Linked DNA regions of Homo sapiens: region 2 is linked to region 1. Evidence: fine-mapped expression QTL. A gene starts in region 1. The other region holds a variant in brackets. All regions are shown on one strand. Distances are between the middles of the regions. Region 1 holds the start of MMAB (metabolism of cobalamin associated B). Region 2 has its middle 39 kb from the start of MVK.

Evidence for each region. PIP is the estimated chance that this variant, and not a neighbour inherited with it, causes the effect.
Region 2: its variant is fine-mapped to the expression of MMAB in lymphoblastoid cells (GTEx, PIP 0.98).

What each region holds. Positions count from the first base shown.
Region 1 is chr12:109,569,264-109,579,484 of GRCh38, reverse strand. MMAB (metabolism of cobalamin associated B) reads left to right here and starts at 5,981. Exons shown (of 9, transcript NM_052845.4): 1 at 5,981-6,138; 2 at 7,775-7,836. The coding sequence starts at 6,005. MVK (mevalonate kinase) reads right to left here and starts at 5,691. Exons shown (of 11, transcript NM_000431.4): 1 at 5,612-5,691; 2 at 4,585-4,676; 3 at 3,340-3,487. The coding sequence starts at 4,662. RefSeq lists silencers at 5,451-5,680, 5,701-5,830 and enhancers at 5,590-6,089, 6,090-6,591.
Region 2 is chr12:109,607,037-109,618,658 of GRCh38, reverse strand. No RefSeq gene overlaps it. Among named protein-coding and RNA genes, the nearest start is that of MVK, 39 kb to the right of the region's middle. RefSeq lists an enhancer at 6,934-7,434. The variant T/A (reference allele first, on the strand shown) is at 6,463.

The DNA of each region.
Region 1 (10,221 bases):
CACAGCACCTGGCATGTAGTAAGTGCTAATTAACAGTAGTTTTAAGGTTGGGTGCAGGCGCTTATGCCTGTAACCCCAGTACTTTGGGAGGCCAAGGTGGGCAGATCACTTGTGCCTAGGAGTTTGAGACCAGCCTAGGTAACATGGCGAAACCCCAACTCTACAGAAAGTACAAAAACTAGCCAGGCATGGTGGCGCACACCTGTGGTCCCAGCTACTCAGAAGGCTGAGGCAGGAGGATCGCTTGAGCCCAGGAGGTTGAAGAAACAGTGAGCTGTGGTCGCACCACTGTACTCCAGGCTGCATAACAGAGTGAGACCCTGTCTCAAAAAAAAAAAAAAAAAAAATTGTAGTCTTAAAACAAACACACACAGACACACAGACACACACAGAGAATGCTGGCTCAATCGCACAAGGGCCTAGGTTTCACCTTCCATTGTATAAAACCAAAATCAAAAGAGTGTTAAGTTAACCCCCAAAATATTTCCCTCCTCCAAAAGATAATCATCAGGAATAGGACAGTGTAAATGCGAGGCGGTGCCTGGGCAGAAGGGGAAGGTGAGGCAGGTTGTTCCCAGGGATGTACAGGAACCTGGGCCACTTTCCTCTGAGACACTGAGAAGGCAGAGCCTTTCTGGCCAGCTCACCTTTACAAATCACTCGCTGAGCCTCAGGTCACATTCTCAAGGGACTGGGAAATGGAATTGGGCATGCGTGTGTTAGGAAACTTCGGGCACTGGTTAAGTACTGGGTAAATGTGTGTTGAATGGATTAATGATATACTCAAATGGCCAAGTCATGGCATCATTGAGAACCCAGGTATTTCAGAGCTTTGTAATCGAGATGGAACAGCTGTTAAGAGCCTGGACTTTGGGGCTAGGAGAAACCTGGGTCTGAATCCTTTCAGTGTCACCAACAAGTGTAACCTGAGCCACTTGACCTCTGAACTTTAATTTTCAGATCTGTACAATGGGGATGAATACCACCACCTACTTCCAGGGAATGCTGGCGAATTCTAAGAGTGCTAACATATGTGAACACACTTAGTGCCTGGCACACGTAAGTGCCCAATAAGTGTTCACTGTAGTAGCACGGTGCAGTGGTATGTGCTTATATTCCCAGCTACTCGGGAGGCTAAGGCAGAAGAACACTTGAGCCCAGGAATTTGGGACCAGCCTGGGCAACATAGTAAGACCCTGCCTCTTAAAAAAAAAAAAAAAGTTCAATGTTTATTACTATCAGGAGGGAGCAAAAGGACACTGAAAGAAAGATGGTAGATCTTTGCAACCTAGAAGATAGTATGTCTCCCAGAGCTCCAAAACTAACAAGCCCTTCCCTACATAATGCACTCTGTGTCGCACCCCTAATGCCTGCCTCCAGTGTCGTCGGATCCTCATGGCAGCCCTCAGTCAGGAAACATGTCTCTGCTCCGAGGCCCAGAGGATGAAGTGACCTGCCCCAGGTTCACTGAGGGAGTTGGAGTGGTCTGAGACATGTTCCCCCATACCTGGCTGCTTCCACCCCAAGCTACTGACATACACAAGTTGCAGCTGGTTCTCAGGAGACATTTCTGGTCTGGCTGGGTGGCCCTGTGCACCTTGGAAAGCAAGTTCCATGTGCTCTGGCTGGTTGTTTTCAGATGCACGCTCCAAAGGAGTGGCTTTTAACTGAGGTGTCCCCAGAATCACCCAAGGAACCCCTTTCAAAAACTCCTACCACCACTACCAACTCCCAATAAGAGAGGGGCGGAGCCAGGAGCCCATCCATCTGTATTGGTTAAAAAAAACCACCACCACCATCACAAAAAACTCCTGGGTGATTCCAAGATATGATGAAGTTAAAAAGGGCTGCTCTAAAATGAGGATTTTGGCTGGGCACAGTGGCTCTCACCTGTAACCCCAGCACTTTGGGAGCCCAAGGTGGGAAAGTGGAAAACTGCTTGAGCCCAGGAGTTCCAGACCAGCCTGGGCAACACAGTGAGACCCCATCTCAACAAGTGAAATGAGAATTTTCAACTCTTCCTCCATCCCCATACGGCATATGGGAGTGACTGTGGTTTCTCATGGGGAATGGGAAGCAGGTGTCAAGGGTTCAGGTGCAGTGTAAGGAAAAAACCCAAAAAGATTCTCATTTACCCCATCCTGGCTGAGAAACACTGTTCCAAAGAGCAAGGCTTCATTCAGCCCAGGGAGCAGACAGTAAACTGACAACAGAGAAAACACACGTCAGCTCTGGGGCAGGTACAGGGGACTCCACTGATGGAAAAAGCTGGCCTGCTTATGAGTGGATGAAATCTTCACAGTGCTGTCAAAAATCAGCACACACACGTGACACACAAAGAAAAAATCAGTACTTCTGAATGGTTTATATGGCCTGACCCAATTTTGGTTAAAAAACCAAGATATCTCCCTGTCTCTATCAATCTTTCTATCAATCTACAGAAAATCACCCAGAAGGATTAATGCCTAAATGCTTAGAGTCATTACTGGGGTCAGGGAAAGGAGAAGGGAAATAATAGGTGATTTTTAAAATTACAATGTCCCAGTATTGACTATATTTTCCAATAATAAGCATAGGTAACTTGTACTTTTATTAAATTTTTTTTTTTTTTTTTGAGATGGAGTCTTGCCCTGTCCCCCAGGCTGGAGTGCAATGGCGCAATCTTGGCTCACTGCAACCTCTGCCTCCCAGGTTCAAGCGATTCTCCTACCTCAGCCTCCTGAGTAGCTGAGATTACAGGTGTGTGCCACCACACCCAGCTAATTTTTGTATTTTTAGTAGAGACATGGTTTCGACATGTTGGCCAGGCTGGTCTCGAACTCCTGACCTCAGATGATCCGCCCGCCTTGGCCTCCCAAAGTGCTGGAATTACAGGCATGAGCCACTGTGCCTGGCCTACTTTTATCAATTTTTAATTATACAAAATGCCAATATATTCTCCTTATTTAAAACATGTGTCACTTTGTCTACTCTCTGGCCCTAGGTCTCTCCCAGGAGAACTAATCACCACTGCCAATCTGATGTCTATGCCCCCGAGACCTTTTCTATCATTTATACACATATTTATACTTAAATACGTATGTTTGCTGTTTTGCATTTTTTTCACTCAACAATAGGCCTTGATGATCTGTCCACAACAGCCCACAGAGATCCAATGCATTGTTTTACACCTATAAATTTTAAAAAAATAAAATGAGTGAAGCTAATTTTATGAGGTCAGGGTAGAAAACACCCGGGAAATAGCTGGCCCCTGGCTCCCTTGGGGACAGCCCAGAATACCTGGCCAGCTGCCCTCTCTGTAGGCTCTTAGCACACCTGGTTTCTCCTCCTTGCACTCACCCAGAAAGCTTGTGTCCAGTGACTGAAGCCTGGCCACATCCCAGGCCCGCTTGATACCAATGTTGGGTAAGCTGAGGTCCACTTTCCCATTGCTGTGGGGTTGAAGCCGGAGGAATGTTCTCAAGTTCAAGGATACAGCCAGTGCTACCTATAGAATAAATGACAAAAGCAATAAGCCTGAGGGTGAGTGGCAAAGGGGCCAGGACCCACGTGCTAAGAAGAGAGCAAACATAAGCACAGAGGCCACTCCTAGCCATGCCCTTGCCAGACACTGCTAATCAACCTTGGCATGCTCTCCCACTAAGCCTGGGAACAGCCACCATCGATCAGCTAAAAGTTAAAATCCACTTTGCCTTCTGCCTGCAAAATTTCAGAGGTTCTCAATACCAAGGAATCACTTCCCCATAATCACCATGTTTTCAATGAGAAATATAAGAACATAAAGAATAGCAGTGAGAAGCCAGGTGTGGTGGCTCATATCTGTAATCCCAGCACTTTGGGAGGCCAAGGCAAGAGGATCACTTGAGCCCAGGAGTTTGAGACCAGCGTAGTGTCAGACCACGTCTCTACAGAAAAATAAAAGAAAAAAATTAGTGGGGCATGGTGGTACACACCTGTGGTCCCAGCTACTTGGGAGGCTGAGGTTGGAGGCTGCAGTGAGCCATGATCGCAAGATTGCACTCCGGTGACAGAGCAAGACTGTCTCAGGAAAAAAAAAAAAAAGCAGAGTGCAGCAGAGGTGGTTTCAGACAGACTTAGGTTCACACCAAGCTCTACCAAGGTATATAGGACTTGGATCAAGTTACCACTTCTCTCCTAAGCCTCAGTTTGCACATTTGTAAAATAGGATAATAAAAGGGTATGCCTTGGGGGTAGCTGTAAGGGTAAAATGAGATAATGGATGTTTTCAACTCCTTTGCTAGATCATCCTTCCAACTTCTAAATGTCTTAGTGCCCCGGAGCTCAGTTCTCAAACCTCTTTCCTTCTGCATCAAAGCTCACTCCTAGGTGATCTCATTCCACTCACAGGGCTTTATATTATAATCATCTTTTTGCTATCATACCGAGCGAGGCCCAAGAATCCCTTCAGTGGGCATAAGAAATCTTTTCCTTGCCTGGCTGGGGAGAACCTGATCTCTCTGATCTGCTCCCAAGCTGTGCCTCAGGGTGTCCTTTTACCTTCTTACAAAATTAGCATCAGGGAGAAGGGGTACCCAATCCTTAAAGGCTCTAACGGCTTTGTACCTTGCCATGTACCACGGCATGTTCTCCATGAAGGATGACTTTCCCCGGAGCAGACACCAGTAGGACTTCTGACAACATGGCTCCTGGGAATCCTAAAAGGGAAAGCCAATGAGAAGAGCAAAGATCTCTAGATGTCAGAACCAGCAGGAAGAGATCTTAGAACACCTAGTTCAAGCCCATCATAATAACAAAAAAGGTAGTTACCGTCCAGCACTTGCTACGTACCAGAAAGGCAATGCAGGAGTCAACTGGACACATCCAACAGATCTGGGTTCAAATGCCAGCTCTTCCACTCCCCAGTGATGTCATCTTAGTTAACTCACTTAAATGGCTAAGAACCTCGGTTTCCCCACACGTTATATGGAGAGAAAATAACCGTACCTACCTCGGTGGATGTTAGGAAGGTTAAATTAACGCAAGGGAAACACTTGGCGGTGTCTGGCACCTACTAATCATTCAATTACTGAGAGCTACTTATTACTGGCTCTGTTCTTCGTTTCAGCTTTTACAACTACTACTATTAAAGGTAGAAATTACATGAAATCATGGAGCAGAAAGAACTCTTTGCTGGACATTTAGGCTGTTTCCAATGTGTCACAATTATAAACAAGGCTGCAGAAAACACCCAGTACGCCTCGTTTTGCACACTTAAATGAGTATTTCTGCAGGACAGAGTCCTAGAAAGGAGCTTGCAGGGTCTATAGGTGTGTGCAATTTACACTTTTATACATAACGCAAAATTATCCTCCGCTTAAGGCTTTACGTAGATTACCTTACGCTAAGATTCAGGTGTACTATGAGCTAAGTACTATCGTGATCCCCATTTCTTAGAAAAACTGAGGCTCAGAGCGGGGAATCCCCTTGCTTGTCAAGCTCAAAATCACGACTGTCAGATTGAGGTCGCCGATCCCTCGGGGCAAGACTCTCAGAGCTGGGTAAACTGAGCCACAGAAGCTGGACGCCTGGCTCAGCGTCGTCCTGGGTCTAGGACCTCGCGCCGCCCGGCCGCCCGACCCCGGCCTCTCACCTGCCGCCGCCGCCGCCTCCCCGGCCGCCGCCCCTCCGCGCCGAAGCCGGAGCAGCTCCCCAACTCCCACAACCCAGAGCGCCCGTGCCTCAAGGGGAGGAGGCGTTGTACTTCAGGCCAGCCAATCAGAGCGCGCGAGCCCGGAGTACCTTTACCAATAGGCTTGAACATTGGTCAATAGGTGTTGCAGCCAAGCCGACACGGGTTTTCCCGCCCCGCTCCTTCCGTTAAACCAATGGGAAACAAGTCCCTGGGAGTGTCCCGCCCTGGGGTGAGAACTGCGAACCAATAAAAATTGAAACCTGAGCGGTGGCGCGGCCAGCTGTGGGTGGAGTCACCCCGCGGACTGGACGGGAACCTGGCGGGGTCAGGTCCCGTCAAGCAGCCTGGCTCATGGCTGTGTGCGGCCTGGGGAGCCGTCTTGGCCTGGGGAGCCGTCTTGGCCTGCGCGGGTGCTTCGGCGCCGCCAGGCTCCTGTATCCCCGTTTCCAGAGCCGCGGCCCTCAGGGCGTGGAAGACGGGGACAGGTGAGTGGCTGGCGGGAAGGGCAACTCGAACACCTGCCGTGAATCGTGGTGTCGTCGCCATGGGTACGTCACACCGCCGTGAGGTCACCGCGGCAACCGTCAGGTGACGTCTCCACGCTGTTCTGACGTCACCATGGCAACGTGGGCCACGTGGGCGCCAGAGACCAGGTAGTCTTTGCCTAAGTCCCAATGAAGTCCCGCTATCATCGGGCAGGGCAGGGCATATCCCATGTGGGCCAGGAGGGCTCTCGACTCAGATTGTGACCAATCTCCAAAGCAGTTTATTCCCCAGGTCCCAGATACACCAGCACCTTCTAAAGATGGCTTTCCTCATATTCCTTGAAACTTGCACCTCAACCCAGACCTCAGAACCTCTAGAGTACCGTGGATTAATAATGGATTAATTTAGTTCACAGATCCAGGAAATTAACCTTCGAATGGGCTTGTAATGTCACATTTTAATTTTGAGCTATGTCCTTGAGTTGTTTACATTGTTTTTTGAAAATGCCACTTTTTGAGCTGTATTTTGGCAATTCTTCATCTCTGAGTACACTCGAAGCCTCATACTATGGAAGTGGCTCAGGTTTCTTTTCCTGCAAGAGGCCCTGAGTTGGTGGAGTATAAGATAAAAATTTGGGTAGGATAGAGTTAAGAGTCCTAGCTACTTGGGAGGCTGAGGCAGAGGATCACTTGAGCTCAGGAGTTCAAGGCTGCAGTGAGCTATGATCATGCCACTGCACTGCATTCCAGCTTAGGCAACAGAGCAAGACCCTGTCTGTGAACAAAATAATCATAGGCCAGATACGGTGGCTCACGCCTGTAATCACAACACTTTGGGAGTTTGAGGCAGGAGTATTGCTTGAGCTCAGGAGTTCAAAACCAGCCTGAGCAACATGGTGAAACCCGTCTCTACCAAAAAAAAAAAAAAAAAAAAATTAGCTGGGTGTGGTGGTATACACCCGTGCTCCCAGCTGCTCGGGAGGCTGAGGTGGGAGGATTGTTTGAGCCTGGGAGGCAGAGGTTGCAGTGAGCCTAGATCGTGCAACTGCATTTCAGCCTGGGTGACAGAGTGAGACCCCATCTCAAAATAATAATAATAATAATAAATAAATAAATAATTTCGGTAGGATAGAAGTTACAGTTTGTGCTCTGGTCTAGGACAGTTTTGGGCATCCCACTCCTGCCTCTTCTTGGATGGTCTAGGAAGGTGTCTCATCTGAGCCATAGTTTCCTCCTCAGTAAAATGAAGAGAATAGGTGTTGGCTACCTTTGGGGTTGTGGAAAGATTCCAGGATAATTCCAGAAGATAATGCCTGTAAACTACTTGGCACAGTGCAGGGACAATGGCAAAGGATCAATCAAGTCCTTCAGCAAATATTTATTGAGCATCTTTGTTGAGCAAGGCATTACATCAGCTACTCTACACACTCTGTCATCCAGCTCTGGTCTTGCCCACAAAATGTTTGCTATTAGAAAGGATCTAGGGGAAAGAAATCAACAAGAGATGACCATCTAAGCAGTAAGGGGTAAGTGCTGCCTCTGAGGTTACAAGCAGCAAGCTGGGACCCTCTGAAGGAGCTGACCCTCTGTGTAAGCCATCCCCACTCACCAGATACTGATGTTTATTTCTCATTAGGCCACAGCCTTCCTCGAAGACACCCAGGATCCCCAAGATTTACACCAAAACGGGAGACAAAGGTAGGGTGGGGACAGGTGAAAAATGCAAAGAAATACTCATGGCATACACCATTTTAAAGTTCTTCCAAATTCTTTGCAGCCACTTTAAAGTATAATATACCAGGCGCGGTGGCTCATGCCTGTAATCCCGGCACTTTGGGAGGCCCTGTTGGGCTAATCATCTGAGGCCAGGAATTTGAGACTAGCCTGGCCAATGTGGTGAAACCCCATCTCTACTAAAAATACAAAAATTAGCTGAGTATGGTGGTCCATGCCTGTAACCCCAGCAGCTACTTGGGAGGCTGAGGCAGGAGAATTGCTTGAACTCGGGAGGCAGAGGTTGCAGTGAGCCAAGATCATGCCACTGCACTCCAGCCTGGGTGACAGAGCAAGACTCCATCTCAGAAAAAAAAAAAGTCTCAGAAAAAAAAAGTATGATATTTGACAGATCTCAAAATATGTTACAAAAATGTAATGTGAAATGAAAAACACCCAAGAGATATTAAATGACAAAAGCCTGAATCTGTCTGGATAAGCATGTACATATATGTGTGTTCAGGTGTGTGTAGAATAGTCTGAAAGGTTACACCTGGGACTGTTCTGGGAGAGAGATTAAGTTGTGAGAGGGGAACAAACAGAAGGACTTTCACTATTTACATACTTTTATTCTATTTTATTATTTTTTATAATGAGTATATATTACTTTAATAGTTTTTAAAATGCTAGAACATGTTATATAGAAAAAAGTAAGATGCAGAAGAATGCGTTGCTATGATCCTTTTTTTTTTTTTTTTTTGATACAGGGTTTTACTCTGTCACCCAGGCTGGAGTGCAGTGGCTCAGTCATGGCTCACAACAGCCTCCACCTTTCAGACTCAAGCAATCCTCCCACCTCAGCCTTCTGAGTATCTGGGACAACAGGCACACATCGCCATGCCTGGCTAATACTTTTTAATTTTTTTTGTAGAGATGAGGTCTTGCTGTGTTGCCCAGGCTGGTCTTGAACTGCTAGGCTCAAGGTATCCTCCCAGCTCAGCCTCCCAAAATGCTGGGATTACAGGAGGCATGAGCTACCGCACCAAGACAGTATACCATTTTTTGTAGTACAAAAGCATGCAGACCACTAGTATGTATTGTTTTTTGGATATATACTTGTATAGTAAAAGTATAAAAGCATGTACGGGACATACTCAGTGCCACTGAATGGTAAACTTAAGAAGGGTCAAAATGGTAAAATTTCTGTTATGTATCATCTGTTACCACAATTAAAAAGAAGGAAGAGGATGTTGGAAAGGACTTATTGTAGGGTTGGGCTTGTGTTGGGTGGTTACAAGGAAGTGGGGCTTTGTTCTGGATTGAATCCTGTTAGGAAGCAGGGCTGTTTCTGTCACTGGGTATCTTTTTTTGTTTTTTGAGACAGGGTCTAGTTCTGTTGCCCAGGCTGGAGTGCAGTGGCACGATCTCAGCTCACTGCAACCTCCTGGGTTCAAGCAATTCTTATGCCTCAGCCTCGCGAATAGCTGGGACTACAGGCATGCATCACCATGCCCAACTAATTTTTTCTGTTTTTAGTAGAGACGGGGATTTGCCATGTTGGCCAGGCTAGTCTCGAACTCCTGGCCTCAAGTGATCTGCCCACCATGGCCTCCCAAAGTCCTGGGATTACAGTGTGAGCCACTGCACCTGGCCTGTAATTGGGTATGTTAATAATTTGTTTCTAGAAGACAGAAGGGACAAAGAGGTGCTAACGCTGTAATGGATAAAGATGCAGCAGTCACTCACATTAGCCAGGGAAGGGGGAGGTTTGGTCATCTTTTGGAGTTTGGACACAGTCGTCTGTGCTCAGACGTTCTTCCGCAGTGGCCTTGTCTTGGTCTCGAACCGTCATAGTCATAGAGTGGCCTGTCTGATGGTTTTCTGTGAAATGGTTTGTGTTCAGCAGAACACCACAGTCTACCTGTGAGTGCCAGGCCGGCACCTGGCAACCCCAAAGCCTGCCCGATAGCGAAAGCCAGCTCCAAACTGTCAGGGGCAGTTTTCACTTTCTCAGAGGTTGGGGGAGAAAGGCGGGACTGTGAGCTAGGCAGAGGCACAGAGGACTTTGACTTCATGTGAAATATAATGGTAATGTATATATGATATAAAATATAGAACGTGTTGTATTTCTTTATCAGGATGGTTAGTATGTGGTTTTTAAGTTGAAAAGCACATCAGGAAAGAAGTGAGCATAGTGGCTAACCCTTGGGGAGTGGCAACTAAAAGGGGTTACATGGGGGCTTTCAGGGTGTTGCTCATGTTCTGTTTATGAAGCTAGGTGCTGATCAAGGAGGTATATTCAGTTAGTAGTAATTCACCAACTTGCACACTTACGATTTGAGCACTTTTCTGTGTATATGCTATATTTCA
Region 2 (11,622 bases), 38 kb before region 1:
GCCCCACTCCCCAAGATTCCCTGCTCCCTCTCTGCTTTCCACCCAGGACCTTACTGGCTAGAATATGCGAGTGGAGGGCATCCAGGGAAAAATGTCCTGACCTCCTCCTCCTGCCCTGTACCCCCATCCCTACTGGCTGAGGCTGGGCAGGGGAGGTGGTGAGTATACAGATGCCCACTTCCCACACCCCAGGCTGCTGCCCAGGCAAAGCTTCCAAGACCCAGATTGGCCTTGCCTCTCCTGCCTTTAAAAAAAAAAAAAAAAGGAAAAGAAAAGAAATTCCTGCAACTTGAACAATCATTGTGTTGGATTTGGGAGATGTTATTCCTAGTGACAGACAAGGGCAATTATCTGCAATCCGCCAGCAGTTTTAGCCTAATTTCATTACTGCCGTGCAATTCTCCCTGAGCTGCTAGTCTATCAATGTCTTGCAGAATGGATTAGCGGGCACTTTCTTCATCTTCAAATGAATTTCAGTTGTCATGCCCTTGATGAATAGAGCAGGGGCAGGCGGCTGACCTGGGCCAGGGAGTGGCCAGGGGGCAGCAGGCCAGCGCCCTCAGGTCCTGGTGGGAGGTGAGGTGGTGGGCGGTGGTCCTGGGGGTGAGTGGAGGGAAAGTACCTGAGTGGTCCAGCCCTCCCAGACCCCTCCAGGCCCAGGATTTGAGGGCTGCTTGGACTTGTGTGCTGGGGTCTTGCACACTGAGAACCCCATCTAGGACTCCTTCCCAGATGTCAGGCTGAGAATACTGGAGGGGTTCTTTCCTTGATGGATGCTGCTGACTGGCATCCAGGCCCTCCCAACACCCCATTAAAACCCCAAACACCCAAACTCCAGCTTCCAGTCTGCTTCCCTGAGACACCGTGGACCTCACAGGAGCAGGGGCCAGAGCTGTCTTGTGGCCGCTGTGTCCCCAGAGTCTGGCTCGGAGGAGATGCTCAGACAGTGTTTGTTGCAGGACAAATGATTCTCAGTTCTGCAGCAGCTTGGGCCGGGGCCCGGTGCAGGCCTGGCACGTGGCAGGAGCCCAATCACTATTAGACAAATGGCTGGTGGTACGGGTGGCTTATTAGAAAGAAGGTGGAAAAGGGAGGGAGGGAGTGCTTTGTGAGCCCCCACTACACATCAAGCACCGTGCTGGGGACGCTGCTGATGCGGTGTCATTTCATCTCAGAGAGGTGAAGCCGCTACATCCAGGGCATAAGCAAATAAGTTGGAAATTGGCAAACCCAGGCGTGTCTGACATCCTTGCAACTCCCAAGGAGCTCTGTTTCAGGAGTGCTGGGCGTGAAGTGAGATTCTTCTCATGGGCAAGGTGAGGCCTCATGGGACTCAGGGTCTGCAACATGGGGTGAAGTCTCTGCCTGGTGAAGACCCCCTCTTGCCCACTGCCACCCAGAAGACTCCTCCCATAAAACGCTTCTCCAAATTTCTGGGAAGAAGGGCTGTGGTAGGCTTTTCCCTTTTACCATTGGTCTGTTCTCCTGTTCCCTGCCTGGCTCTTTACCCTGGGAAGCTGACCTCCATAGACAGCATCCAGGGGCAACTTGTCCTCTAAGTTTCAGGTGGAATCATCCAATGGGAGGCTGGGAGCGGGCAGAGGGAGAGTTTGGGGTGTCTCTGCCCAACTCAGCTGGCTTAAGTGCTGCATTCCTGGCAATAATCTGTCCCTTTGTGACGAAGGCTCCTGCTCACCTCGTGGCACCCCTCTCCATGGCTCCAGCTCCTTGTGGGATCTGGCAACTCCGTTTCTGCCCCATCAGACCTTGGAAATGAGAAGGGGGGACCTTGCTGTTTCCCGACCCTGATGGTCTCACCATCCCTGTTTGGTTTGCAACTCTGTTTACAGAACTCCCTTTACTAAACTCTCTTCGCTGGTACCATCCCAGTGGAATGCCATGTCCTGCTGGGATACTGACTGGGGCTTGGGGGAGACTATAGCAGCTCACTGTGACAGCAGCTTCTGTTGACCCTGCACCTGCTCTGCGCAGGCACCGGGCTGGGCCATGGGCTCACACCAACCCTTCGGAGACTCCCAGCAGCTCAACAGGACCGCACTATTTACAGAGAAGGATACTGAGGTTCAAAGAGGCAAGGAGACCCTTAAGGCAATGCTTGGGGAAGTGAGGACTTGGGGTTATTATTCCCCTGTCTCCCTGGCTTATCATCTTAACCCATATGATGCACACACTTGACTCTTTGCCCTGCCAGAAACCGTAGCCAGCAGACGTTGGTCTTCCTTAGACCAGACATTCTCTTTCACCCTCAGATGGCAGCCACCATGGATCCCTGAGGCGTCCTTGGTCTCCAGCTGTCTTCCACATCAGCAGCGGAAAGTCAAGCCCTAGAGAAGGGGGCTCCCTCCACAGCAGCCACCCGATCAGCCCCCGGTACCCCCAGAGTGCCTGCTCTCCTCCCAGAACTTCCTCCAGTAGAAGGAAGATCCCTGGATAGGGGTCAGTCCAGCCCCCCACTTTACATGTGGGGAAACAGGTTCAGAGAGGCAAAAAGGTCTTGCTTGAAGCCAAGAGGGAGTCACGCAGAGCTGGCCCCGACCCAGAGAGCCGAGTGGACAACCCCAGGGTTGCAAAATGAGCCTCCTCCCCCACTTTCCAGTTCGGTTTTTTTCTCTGGGCACCTGGGAGACTTTCCCAAGTTATCGATCGCCGGGGCGGCCTTCAGTCAATATGGTGCACTTTACTAATTAATCTTTTCCAGATAATTGCAGGAAATCATTGGTTGGTGTGAAGTGGGAGGTTGGAGAGGCAGCCTCTGTCCCCGACCTGACCAGAGCATCTTCTGGCAGATCCTACCCGCCTGTCCCTCACTCTTCTCTGTCTCCTTCTGGGGCTGATGAGCCACCCCCTCCAGAATCCTCAGCCAGGACTCCCGCCAGCTGTCCTGGCACTGCTCTGGATGTAGCAGGGAACACCGGGAGCAGGACGGTTCTGGTTCAAATCTCAACTTTGGCAATTATTCACTGTGTGACTGCAGACACATCATTTAACCTCCCTCAGCCTCAGCTAAAAAAAACAGACTAGAACTTATGATCTGCATCACAGGCTGCTTACGAGACAAAACAGACCAGGTGCCATGGCTTACTCCTATAATCCCAGCACTTTGGGAGGCCAAGTCAGGAGGATCACTTGAAGCCAGGAGTTCAAGACCAGCCTGGGCAACATAGTGAGACCCTGTCTCTACAAAACAATAAAAAATACAAAATTAGCCAGGTGTGGTAGTGTGTGCCCTGTAGTTCCAGTTACTTGGGAGGCTGAGGCAGGAGGATTGCTTGAGCCCAAAGTTGGGAGGCTGCAGTGAGCTATGATGGTACCACTGCACTCCATCTTGGGTGACAGAGTGAGACCCTATCTCTAAACAGCAAACAAAAAAGATGAAAACATGCTGGGTGCGGTGGCTCATGCCTGTAATCCCAGCACTTTGGGAGGCTGAGACAGGTGGATCACCTGAGGTCAGGAGTCCCAAACCAGCCTGGCCAACATGGTGAAACCCATTTCTACTAAAAATACAAAAATTAGCCAGATGTGGTGGCTCACACCTGTAATCCCAGCTACTCAGGAGGCTGAGGCAGGAGAATAACTGGAACCCGGGGAGCAGAGGTTGCAGTGAGTCAAGATCGTGCCACTGCACTCCAGCCTGGGCAACAGAGTGAGATTCCGTCTCACACATACACACACACACACACACACACACACACACACACACACAGACTGAAAACAAAAGAAGGCATTTTAATACTAATTTAAAATATGACCTCTACAGCTAATAACAGCAACTCCAGCAGCTAACGCTAAACGAGGGCTTTGCCACATTCCAGGTACTGTTCAGAGTGTCTGATAGGTACTATGATTAGTCCCCTTGTATAGAAAGGGAAACTGAGGTTCTGGCCTGAGGTCACACAGCGAGAGGCAGAGCCCCAATCTCTGCTCAGTGTGTAAGAAGCTGATCACCACCTCATGCTGTGTCACCAGGCCCAGGTGAGTGTCCTGCATAGAGCAATGTCCAAGGAGCCAGCTCTCCACTGTGCCCATCTTGGAAGCGGTAAGGAGGTGGGGGTGGGTGTCAGGGGTGGGACAGGGCTCAGGGGCAGCACCCAGGGCTTTCCTCTCTAAGTCCCCTTGTCCCAAAACTCAGGGCCTTCCTCAAAGAGCCCGAGGGAATTCTCCGGCTGGGTAAACTCAGGGTCCCCAGGAGCCTCTCCAGCCCCCACAGTCATTAATCATAACTGAACTCTCCTGGATGAAGTTTCCCATCCCTTTGGGGTTTCTGTCTCCCAGTATCACTTAATATATACCCTCATCGGGCCATATATACCTGCTCCTAATAAACCTCTATGACTTTAATGAACTAAATAGCAAATTACTTTTTTATTCAAGAATGAAATTTCATCATATTCATAATTCATATTTTATTTCAGACATCTGCTGCTGATTACATTACATTTAACTAAAATTAGATGATGCTCAGAATGCAATTAAGACTCTGCCAAATTCTTCGGCCCACCAATGCCGGCGGAGCGCAGCGGGGGCCGCGAGGAACCTAATATGTAATTAGGAGCTATTTTCTAGCTGTTTTTAAAGTCTGAAAATTAGCTGCCTTTATTAATCACACAGACAAATATAAAGTGGAACCAACGCTCGCTGAAATTTCTAAAAGGGATTTTTTGTTTAATTATACACCGCAGAGCGCTGAGACTCGTTCTGCATGTTGATTTGTTGTGCACTGACATTTTGACAACTGGTTCTCAATTTGTCTGTCGTAGTTAGGCAACAACAAAGCCGACGGTAATACTTTAACTTTCAAAACCTTCAGTGTGCCGGGGAGAGGGAGAATGGCATTCCTCACTGCGGGCCCGCAGCTTGGGCTCTCGAAGGCAGAGACACGGGGAGAAGGGCAGGTGAGGGGCGGAGGGGACTCCCGGGACGACGCCAGCTGGGGAGGTGGCTGACATTCTGGATCGGGAGTTACAGGGCCAAGGAACAAGCCCCTGTTCTGCGGGGTGGCTAAGTGGAAACCCTCCCTAATCTCTGGGCCTCAGTTTCCTCCTCTGCACCAAGAATGGGCTGGAGTCTGAGATCTTCAAGGAGCCTGTAGATGCCAAAACTCTGTCTTCTTTTCTCTGTGTGCTAATGTCTTCTGTGTAGCATCATTTGTCCCCTCGGCCTTAGCAGGGGGATGTGATTTTTTTTAGAGACTGTCTCACTCTGTAACCCAGGCTGGAGTGCAGTGGTGTGATCATAGCTCACTGCAGCCTCAAACACCCGGGCTCAAGCAAGCCTCCCTGCTGAGTAGCACCGGGGCTACAGGTTCGAACTCCCCCGCTCAAGCCAACCTCCCTGCTGAGTAGCTGGGTTACAGGTGAGAGCCACAGCACCCAGTCTCCAGAGGAATCCTTTATTATCCCAATGTGCAGAGGATGCAACTGAGACTCTGAGACTCAGCAACTTGTTAACCAACCAGCAGGTGGCCACACCAGAACTCAAACATGGAGTTCACTGACTCCACAATCTGTGGTTCTAACCACTGTATCCACCTCCCTGGCTCAGGAGCCCTGAGCAAGGGACAGCTCTCTGGGCCTCAGATTCCCTTCTGTGATGCTTGGATGTGGTAGAGTGGCACCCAGCCCTGCTGGGGGCCAGGGACAGAGTACACCAGCAGGATCACAGCATGAAGCAGGATTGAGCCCCACACAGGGACCCCCAGTCTCAGTGGAACTCCTGAGCTCACCCCATTCCCTTGGAGGTTCCTTAGGCCACCCTGTGGGTGAAACTACCCAGTGATGTCCAGAAAGTCCCAGGACAGAGAGTGACTGCCAAGGGGCCCAGATTCTACCCCATGCCCAGACAACAATAACAGATGGCTTTTTGTCCCATGTGCCTAGTACTCTGTTGACACTTTATTACCAGCGGGCACAATGGCTCACACCTGTAATCCTGGCACTTCAGGAGGCCAAGGTGGGAGGACCACTTGAGCCCAGAAGTCCGAGGCCAGCCTGAGCAACAGAGAGATCCCGCCTCTAGGAAAAATTAAAACTTAGCTGAGTGTGGTGGTGTACACCTGTAGTCCCAGCTGCTTGGGAGGCTGAGGTAGGAGAATCAATTGAGCCTGGGAGGTAGAGGCTGCAGTGAGCCGTGATCGCACCACTGAACTCCGGCCTGGGCAACAGAGTGAGACCCTGTCTCAAAAAAAAAAAAAAATAATATCACCTACACTCCTTCCACTAACCCTCCAAAGTGGATTCACAACCAGGCTTGGAGTCTCACAGCCTGGATTCAAACCCAACCCCTGCAATTTGCCTGCTGTGGTAACCTTGGTCGGGCTGCCTCAGTTTCCATATCAAGAAAATGAAGAGCTTGAGCACACCCACCTCTCTCGGTTCTGGGGAGGACTGAACAGGATAATTGGGTGTGTGGCCCAGATCAAGCCCTCAGCTGATGGAAGGT[T/A]CCTGTTACCACCCCATTTGACAGACAGGCACATTGAGGCTCTGCAGGGAGAAGTGCTTGCTCTGAGGTGCCTGCCGCCAGGTGGGTCTGATGCCACAGCCCATGCTCCTACCCCACCACCATAATGCCCCCCTAATTCCCACCAGGGAGGACTGGGGAAGGGCCTGAGGACCCACTGTGCAGTCTGGGCTGCCCCATCTGGCCATTGTGACCATCTCCAGGGGCTCTCAGGGTGTTTTTACCTTCCGTCTCTCACTTCCTTTTTGCTCCCTGGAGAGAGTGCCCAGCAGCTTTCTGCAGGAGCCAAGGCATGGCAGAGCCCACCACGGGGTCTTTTGCCCCTGCTGACTCCAGCCCAGTGGAGCCAGCACCATGACCTGCCCAGGCCTGTTTTTAGGAGCCAGCCCTGCCTCCTCCTCCTGCCCACAGACCCATCTGATGAAAACGCCAACGGAGAAAAGGAGGTTGTTTTGGGTGACAATGAAACTGCCAATAAAATCTCAAACGCAGAGATAGGCAATGACTATTTCACTTATTCTGACAGTTTGAGACTTTGCTGGGGAAGGGAAGTGACAGGCACCTGCCGACATCAACACCACTTCTTTCGGAGAACAGCCCGTGGGAGGGGGCTTCCCGGGAGACCTGCCTTGCCCAGATGCCAAGCGGGCTGTGGCTGCTGCTGTTGGCAGCAGGGGCTGCGGTCACCCACGGGGAGAGACTGGACACTCTGACTCTATCCACAACTCCCCTCTGGCACAGACATATGCCAGGCTCTGGCTGGAGACCACAGAGGCAGAAACAACCAGCAAAACCCCTGCCCTTAGGGTTTGTTTTGTTTTTTTAAGACAAGGTCTGGCTCTGTCATTCAGGCTGGAGTGCAGTGGTGCAATCTCGGCTCGCTGTAACCTCTACCTCCTGGGCTCAAGCCATCCTCCCACCTCAGCCTCTCGAATAGCTGGGACTACAAGCATTCATCACGACACCCAGCTAATTTTTGTATTTTATTGTAGAGATGGGGTTTCGACATGTTGCTCAGGCTGGTCTCGAACTCTTGAGCTCAAGCCATCCTGCCATCCTCCCATCTTGGCCTCCCAAGTAGCTGGAACTATAAGCGCTTACCACAGTGCCTGGCTAATTTTTGTATTTTTTGTATAGATGGGGTTTCACCCTATTGCCTAGGCTGGTCTCAAACTCATGAGCTCAAGCAATCCTCCCACCTCAGCCTCCCAAAGTGCTAGGATTACCCACATGAGCCACCATGCCCAGCCCCTTAGGGGTTATTGGGAGTGGAATCGTGTCCCCCACAAAGAGATTTTGAAGTCCTAACCCCGGATCCCCATGAATGTGACTTTATTTGAAAATGAGGTCTTTGCAGATGTAATCAAGTTAAGATGAGGTCATGAGGGTGGGCTGCTGTCCTTATAAGAGGGAATGCCATGTGAAGCCAGACACACAGGGAGAAGGCCATGTGTCAGCAACAGCCAAGGCTGGAGTGATGCAACCGCAAGCCCAGGACTGCCAGCCACCACCAGAAGCTAGGAAGAGGCAAGGGAGGGTTCTCAGAGGACCCAGTGTCTCAGAGGGTCCCTGGTCCTGTCGACACCTTCATTCTAGACTTCTGGCCTCCTGAACCATGACAGAGTAAATCTCTGTTGTTTTAAGCCACCACATTTATGGTACTTTGTTATGGGAGCCCTAATTAGAACACCGTTATAAAGGGCTTCCATGCCAACTAGGGCATCGGCAAAAGAGGCCCCACCTCCAGCTGGAGACTATCAAAAGAGGGGTATATGGCCGGGCACAGTGGCTCATGCCTGTTATCCCAGCACTTTGGGAGGCCGAGGGGTGGGGGATTGCTTGAGCCCAGAAGTTCGAGACCACCCTGGGCAACATAGCAAGAACCCCATCTCTACAAAAAAAAAAAAAAAAAAGTAAAAAATTAGCCAGGCATACTAGTACATGACTGTAGTTCCAGCTACTTGAGAGGTTGAGGTGGTAGGATGGCTTGAGCTCATGAGTTCAAGGCTGCAGTGAGCTGTGATTGTGCCACCACACAGCAGCCTGGGTGACAGAGTGAGAACCAGTCTCAAAAGAAGGGAGCAGGGTATACCCGCTCCTTGAACAGAGTGACAAGGTGGACTCCAAAACTGAAAGGCTGCTCCAGGCACCTACAAAATCTTCCTATCTGTCACCTCCTCTCCATCTGTCCCTAATGCCACTGCCCCTCTCCAGCCATTGTACCTCTCACCTGACTCCTTTCCCCCTGCCCCTCCATTTATCATGCCGCAGCCAGAGAACTTTATAAAGCATCATTATGACCCCACCATCCCTGCCTAACACCCACCCTGGCTCCCCAGAGCCCTCAGGATAAAACTTGCTTTATGTTGGCCTCATACTTACTGTAGGTTCCAACTGAACACAGAACAGCGTTTGGATTCTCTGCGCACACCACGGTATTGCTCACTTCAGTGCCTTTGCTGCCTCAAATGCCCTCTCTTACCTTCTAGCCCAGCCAAAATTCCACCAAGGTACCTCTTCCTCCAGGAAGCCTTCCTTGATCCCATGCCAGGCTAGGAAGAAGAGGCACCCCTCTTCTTCCCTGTTCCCATGGTAACTCAGAATCCACTGCTCTTCACTGTCATCATCAGTTTGCTTAGCTTGCTCTGCCCTGTAAGCCCTGGAGGGCAGGGAAGGGTTCATCTGAGCTCAGGCAGTACCTCCACCGGATACCTCCGCCCCAGCCACACTTGGCCCTTGGCCAAGAAGCTGGCCCTTGAAACAAATGCTGGCTCAACCATCAAGACCCAGGCCAGACCACCTGCTACTTGTGACACTCTGTGAGTGTGACACTCTGCGAGTCCAGGGCTGGAGAAGAGGAACTGACTTTGGGATCAAAGGCTCTGCGCTTGAGCCCCATCTACCTGCTGGCTGGCCTTAGGCATGCTGCTTCCTGTCTCTGAGCTTCATTATCTTTGTCTGTGAAATGGGAACAGCAAGACCTACAAATATGGGGCTGAATTGTAGTCATTATTAATGATTATTATCATCATCATAATGATCAGTTCATTGTAATTGTAATGATTATTTTGTGGGCTTCTGTTTCCAAATCCATGTATCTTTCAAGGTTGCCTTCCCTGCCCAACTGCTCAGACTTGTGAGTCACGCATGCACCCTGGGAGAGTACTCAACATTCCTATATGTCATTGAATTCTTGTAACTCTTTACATATTTATTTGATATTCTTGTAACTGGATGACATCTCCCTTACCAGCAGGGACTGTGTCATATTTCAGGGGCTCTTGAGAAACTCAGCACCTGCTGCTTGATAGATGTGTGCCCTCCCTGCCCACCCACGCCCTATATCGATCTGAAACACCCCAGGGCCAGGGCCTTGAGTTGAGGAAGAAACCACAGGGTAGAGGTTATAAACTGGATGAGAGCTCAAGCAGACCCTTGTTTCCAGCCAGCTCTGCCCCTAGCAGGCTGTGAGACTGAGGTTCAGCCACTTCACCTTTCTGAGTCTCAAATTTCCCTTCTGCAAAGTGGGGCATAGAATACCTACTTCTCAGGACATCGGGAGACAGCGCACACCAAAGTGTCTGGCACATGGCAGATGTTAGATGAATGAGCAGATATTGAACCTCAGAGTCCTGGGGTTGATCCCAGCTTCACCCCTTCCTGGCTGGGTGATGTCAGGCACACCCCACCACAACTCTGACTGTCAGGTTTCTCTTCTGGGGAATGGAGAGCTCTTGTGAGAATGAAATGAGGTCATGGGTGTTAAGCCTGGCACCAGTGTGTGCAGTAAGTAATGGCTACTATTTCATTGCATTGAATTGTAGAAATGTTCAGACCTGCATGTCAGGGCCAGTGCCCCCACACCCAAGATCTGTGAAACGGAGTGAGGGAGAAGATGCAGACGGGACCTGGCAGCATGAGGCCCTTCCCCAAAATAAGGACATTTCCTAGGCCTGGGGCCTTCCAGCCCATCACCTCAAAGTACTCACTAGTCCCCTGAATGCTGAGAGGAAAGGTCTATAAAGGCCCTTCCTTCCCTTTGAGTAAAGCAAGGATAAGAAGAGAAGCATCCACACCTGCTTTGGACCAGCACCTGACCTCCACCTATTCCAAGACCCAGCAAACCCCTTTGGAGGGCTGGGCAGGTGGCCTAGGGAAGCCAGATGTACTGAGCTGAGCAGGATGGCCATGTTGCAGGCAAGGGGGCCTTTGTCTGTCTACTTCTCTGTTCATTCATTCATTCCTTTATGCATCCATTCATCCAGAAAGACTCAAGCTCTTAGCATGAGCCAGGCACTGTGCTAGACTCAGGGGGACCGGTGAGTGGGCTCCTATGTGTGCCCTCAGGAAGGCGCAGTTTCCTGAGGAGACAGGCGATGCAACAAGTCAACAACAGATGGCACATTTGGACATAAAGCAAAGGGAGAGATGGAGGGCAAGAGGGGAGAACTGCATTAGGAGGAGGGTGGGTCAGGGAAGGCTTTTGGAGGAGGTGAGTGGTAAACTGAGGCCACATGCCAGCCAGGTGAAGTGTGAGGGTGCGGAGGAGGTGTGTGTGTGTGTGGCGGGGGTGGGGGGGTCGGGGGGATGTTCCAGGCAGAGGGAACAGCAGAGGCAAAGGGCCTGGGGTGGCACTTGTTTCCATCTCCATCATCATCACTGTCATCAATGCTCCCATCTAGCCAGGGCTCCCTGTGTGAGCACCGGGAGGGACTCCATGTTCATTTTTCTCTCCTGCACCTGAGTGTGGGCTTCTGGAAGGCAGGCTGGATCAGCATGGCCCACCACTACCTCCTCTGTGACTCAGCACAGCACCCAGTGCAGAATCGTCACCCCGTCCCATGCGCTGAGTGAACATGCACAGTGAATACGCAGGCCCTGTGTTCAGTGCCCTGCCCCTGCCTCCTCGCTTTATCCCCACAACCACCTGATGAGCCGGTTCCTCGTCTCCATTTTTCACATAAAGAAACTGAGGCTGAGAGGCAATGTTGCTCACCCAAGGTCACACAGCCAGCAAGTGGCAGAGCTGAGATTCGAACCCAGTTCTATCTGGGCTCTTCTGCTCCATTGCCCAGGCCCTCAGGCCCCTGGATCAGGAAGTGGTGGGGTTGGGATGGAGGGGGAGCACAGAGCAGGGCCCCC